Linked DNA regions of Homo sapiens: region 2 is linked to region 1. Evidence: fine-mapped expression QTL. Tissue or cell type: whole blood. Region 1 holds a variant in brackets; the other region holds the start of a gene. All regions are shown on one strand. Distances are between the middles of the regions.

Region 1 (2,754 bases):
ACCGTTTCCCACCACCAGGCCAGCTGCTGGGACCAGGGACAGCCTCCCTGGGGCCTGTGCACTCCCGCACGGTGGAGGCTGCCCTGGCCACTGCTGCAGACCCTTTGCAAGGGCGTCTGTCCAGCAAGCAGCTCAGAAGTCGGAGCAAGCATCTCCCTCAGGCCCAGGGCAGGTGCTTGTGGCGCTCTAGGACTCGGAGGGCAGGTGCTCGTGGTTGCTCTAGGACTCGGAGGGCAGGTGCTTGTGGTCGCTCTAGGACTCGGTCCCCAGGCCTGGGTTCCTCAGCTGAGATGCATACCCACTGCACCTGCAGCCACTGCCTGCCCAGCTGCCTGCTATGTGGACAGAGCCCTTGGTCTCTGACCCAGGAGCCTCCTGTCTCCCGCCAGGCTTGCTTGTCAGCTTGCAGGCTGGGCAAGTGCACAGCACTGGCTGCAATCAACCTTCTGGCTTCGGTGCCCACCTCTGCCTCTGTCCTATTAAAGGCCAGCCCTGCACACGGGCACCGAGCCCCTTCCCCTGCCTCCTCCAGGACTTCTCTCCTGAGTCATCCCATTTCCCACTGCCTACCGGCAGGCTTTACATGACAGCTTGTGAGCCTCCCCTCTTGACTCCACATCTTCATAAATACGGCCTCTTTTCACTGCTGATTTTCAGAGCAAAGTTTCTTGGATATGTTGTCCATCCCATCTCCCATCCTCTCCCCAAGCCGGGAAGGATTGAATGAAAATTCTACTACCCCCCTGAGACCACACTTAAGACCACCAGTGACCTTCACCTTGCAAAAAAGCAGGGGCTGCTTCTCTGTCCTGACCTAACTGGACCTACCTGTAGCGTTCCACTGCACAGTTTAACCACTCCTTCCCTCCTAATAACTTTTTTTTTTTTTTTTTTTTTGTAGAGACAGGGTCTTGCTCTCTCACCCAGGCTGGAGTGCAGTGTGTAATCACAGCTCACTGCGGCCTAGAACTCCTGGGCTCAAGTGATCCTCCTGCCTCTGTCTCCCAAAGTGCTGGGATTACAGGCATGAACCAGTGTGCCCGGCC[CT/C]TTTTTTTTTTTTTTTTTTGAGATGATGTCTCACTACATTGTCCAGGCTGGTGTGGAACCTCTGAGTTCAAGCGATCCTCCCACTTTAGCCTCCCCAAATGCTGCAATTACAGGAGTGAGCCACCGCCCGGCCTATAGCAATTTTCATGTCAGACAAAATAGGTTTTTTGGTGAAATACAACATGAGGGGTTATGAGGGATGTTACATACTGGTAAAGGGAGGAAAAGATCAAGAAGGCAAAAAACCTAAACATGTATGCACCTAACAGCGAACCTCAAAACACATAAAGCAACAATTGACAAAAACAGATAGATTGATAATTGTAGTTTAAGAACTAATATTTCCCTCTCAGAAGAGTTAACATCATAGTAATTTAATTCTCTGACCAGAATGTAAAAATATTAGAAATCAGTAACAGACAAAAAAATAAAATTCCACAAATCTAGAAACTTAAGGAAAAATTCCATTTAAGTTAAAGCAAAATGAGTTGAGTTATAAGTCCTACAAGGGAAAGACAAGGGAAACATGAGGATGTTGAGATTTATGAGACATGGTTAAAGCAAAGCAACGCTTGGAGGAATATGCATTTCTTTGGCTGCATTGGTCAGAAAACAAGACAGATTTCAGACTTGAAGAAGGCATCATGAAGCTAGCACTCCTCCACTATCCTTGTAAATCATCCAAAAGCAAAAAAAAAAAAAAAAAAAAAAAGATAATGAAAAGCAAAAATGCAAACTTCATTTTCATTAAAACTAAGAGCTAGAATTGGTGGTGGTGGCGGGGGCTACCAAAGGCTGCAGGAACTCGGCAAGGGCTGTGTCAAAGACATACAGATGCCTCGTTACAGACCCCAGAAAGAGCAGAGGGCATTTCTCTAAGGCAAGGGTACACCCTGAGGGTAGGACCTAATTCCTTGTTTCAGGAGTAGGAACATGGGCTGGCAGCAAGTGCTTCCCTGACCTTGTTCCGTTCCTGGAAGAGAGGAGGGAGAGTGAACCAGGAACAGAACAGGCCCTATCTGCAAAGTGCAGTATCTGTGGGGAAAGGGAAGAGAGAAGCTGTATCAGCTGTTAAAAGCCTGATAGGTGGAGACTTGTATTTAAAGCTAAAATCAACGACACGACTCTGCTGGGCTGGAAGATGGTTCTGGCTTCATTTTCCATACAAACTTTTTCAAATAGCTAGTCAAGTAAAAATTTACCTGTTCTAAAGATGAGGCCAGGCACGGTGGCTCATGCCCGTAATCCCAGCACTTTGAGAGCGTAAGGTGGGAGGATCACTTGAGCCCAGGAGTTCGAGACCAGCCTGGGCAACAGAGCGACACCTTGTACCTACAAAAAACTAAAACAATCTTAGCTGAGCGTGGTGGCGTGTCCCTGTGGTCCCAGCTACTTGGGAGGCTGAGGTGGGAGAATCACTTGAGCCCAAGAGGTCAAGGCTGCAGTGAGCTGAGATTGCCGCACTGCACTCCAGCCTCGGTGACAGAATGGGACACTGTCTCTAAAAAGAGAAAAAGAAAAAAAAAATGAGGGGGGAGCCAAGAAACGAAAGTGCTCCAAGAGAAAAGGAGAAAGGAAACAAGCAAACGAATGAACACGAACGTCTCCAGAAGAACTTTCCATTGAGTTGATGAAAATTTGGACAAAATGTTTTGTGGTGAATTAAAAATGCAAGGAGGCGGTGCCCCTAAGAATCCTGAGCACAGA
Region 2 (2,500 bases), 89 kb after region 1:
GCTAAGCAAGAATAAATACTGGAGACCAGATCATGGGATGATACCAACATGAACGCCAGCGTCTACATGTTGCTGAATGAACTGTGGTTCTCTAAGAGGTCAGCATTCTAGGGGCTCTGGGCAAAAGGCACACGGGAAATCTGTGCTCCTTTTGTATCCTTTTTCTAAGTTACAGATAATTTTTTTTTTTTTTGAGACCGAGTTTCGCTCTTGTCTCCCAGACTGGAGTGCAATGGCGCGATCTTGGCTCTCCGCAACCTGCGCCTCTCGGTGTGGTACCCTACTTTGTTTTAACCTGACTGACTCTCTCTTAGCTGAGAGGGCCGGACAGACACCATTTTGGTTTCTTCGCTTGCAGCCCCTTGTCCCCGTCCCTTAAGGACATAACTGGGGCAAGCTGACTCCAAGCACATCCAGGAATGCGCTTACTGATAAAATACTGATAAGAAACTGGAGCAAGCTGTACCAGCAGCTCCTGGGAACGCGCTCGGTTGATGGTACCCAAAGCCCCTGCGTTTATCACTTTGTGATAATTTAAGCCCCTGTACCTGGAACTGTTTATTTTCCTGTAACTGTTTCTGTAACCATTTATCTTTTAACTTTTTGCCTATTCTGCTTCTGTAAAAAAATCGCTTCAGCTAGCCTCCCCTCCTCTATTTAGACCAAGGTATCAAAAGAAATCTAGCCCCTTCTTCGGGGCCGAGGGAATTTGCAGCTCTAGCAGTCTGTCAGTCGCTGGCAATACAGGACTCCTGAGTAGTCTCAGAGTGTGGCGTTCTCTCTATAACTCCCTCAGTTACAACATCGGGTTCAAGCGATTCTCCTGCTTCAGCCTCCGGAGTAGCTGGGATTACAGGCGTGCACCACCACGCCCAATAATTTTTGTATTTTTAGTAGAGAGGGGGTTTCACCATGTTGGCCAGGCTGGTCTCGAACTCCGGGCCTCAAGCAATCTGCCCGCCTCTGCCTCCCAAAGTGCTGGATTACAGGCGCGAACCACCGCCTCCGGCCTTTTTTTTTCCTCTCTTTTTTTTTTTTTTTTTTTAAACTCACAGACACTGTAAGGCTGCCTGGGCGCGGAGCCGTCCTTGCCGGCGGCGGAACCCGGGGAATTCTCCCGGGGCTGCGGGGCCCTGGTCGGCAGCGCCCACCGCCCCAGGTCACCCACGGGAGACCGAGGGAACGCTCCCGCTCCACGCGGCCGCAACCCCCGCCCCGCCCCGCCGCAGCCTCCGCGAGGGGATCCCCGGTCCGGGCCTGGCCGAGCTCTGAGGGTCGACCTCGCGCTCCAGGTCCCCACCAAAGCGCTGCGTCCGACAGGACGGCAGCTGCTGGGGTTTTCTACAGGAAGAGTGGTCGGAGCGGCGCCCCCCACGCCTCCCACGCCTCCCACGCCGCCCGCCCGCACCTCACCCTAACGCCCGCCAGCAGCGCTGGCCAGGTCCCGCCGCGTTGCCACAGCGACCGGGTCAGTCGGCCGCGTCCGGCTGCGCTCGGTGCAGCGCTCGGGTCCCGCCGACAGGAAACGGGGTCCCTGGCGCTAGGTTCCGGCCCCTCCCGCCCCGCCGGGTTCCGCGCTGCGCCCGGGTCCGAGGGGCGCCCCGGCCGACCCGACCACCGCCGCAGATCGAAGGAGGGAGCCCGGCCTCCTCACCGGTCAGCGGGGCGACTCCGGACGGGGCTCCGGGCTATGGGGACGGCGGGTTCCGCCGCGCGAGGCGCCCCCACCTTCGCCGCCCCCGGCCCGGCCGAGGGTCCCCAGGCGCCCGCTTCCTGAGGCCGCCCGGCTCGCGGTCCCGAAGGGTTGACTTGAGCTTTTGCCCTGAGATGAAGGGAGCACGGGGCGGCCGAGGCTGCCCGTGGGGGTCTGTTCGGGCCGGGGGCGCCACGAAGTCCTGCCTAAGGGTCGGCTGCGGCCACCGGGGCACGAGTTCCCGGCGCTGCCCACGGGCTCGGAGACCGGCGGGGCCCAGGGGCCGTGCGCGCGGTCGCTCAGACCCTGATTAGGGAACTGGGGGAAGGAGGGGGGTCGGGACCCACCGAGGCCCGAAGTCGCCCCCACCATCCTGTGGGAACAACATCCTCAGGCACAGCCATTCCCAACCATTCACATCCTCAGAAAAAGGCACGTGTCCGTATCCATCTGCGGATGGATGAACAGAGCCCGGCCCCGGGACAGAGCAGCCTGGCTCACCCGAACCCTCAGCCCGCAATTCTGCGTGGGAGTGGAGGGGGTGTTTGGTGTCTGGGAATTCCCCTGGTGGGGCAATAAGCCAGGGGTCTGGTGTCATCCTCCACCCACATTGTTAACACTGGATCACTCCTCTCCGTGCCGTGCCTGCAGCCCAGGCACCCTGCAGCCTGTCCTCCCCGAACCATGCGTCCTGGTAGAGCTGTCTCCCTCGCCCACAGTCCTCAGTCCCGCCTCACACACCAAACCCTCTTCTGCCTCAGGTCCTTTGCGCCAGTTGCCTCTGCCTAGACTTGGTTCCCTGGATGC

What was found. PIP is the estimated chance that this variant, and not a neighbour inherited with it, causes the effect.
Region 2: it holds the start of CCDC57, and the variant in region 1 is fine-mapped to the expression of CCDC57 in whole blood (INTERVAL, PIP above 0.99).

The regions. Positions count from the first base shown.
Region 1 is chr17:82,122,247-82,125,000 of GRCh38, forward strand. All of the region lies in intron 18 of CCDC57 (coiled-coil domain containing 57), which reads right to left. Among named protein-coding and RNA genes, the nearest start is that of FASN, 25 kb to the left of the region's middle. The variant CT/C (reference allele first, on the strand shown) is at 1,047.
Region 2 is chr17:82,211,372-82,213,871 of GRCh38, forward strand. CCDC57 (coiled-coil domain containing 57) reads right to left here and starts at 1,471. Exons shown (of 19, transcript NM_001394669.1): 1 at 1,414-1,471. RefSeq lists a silencer at 1,012-1,931 and an enhancer at 1,882-2,500.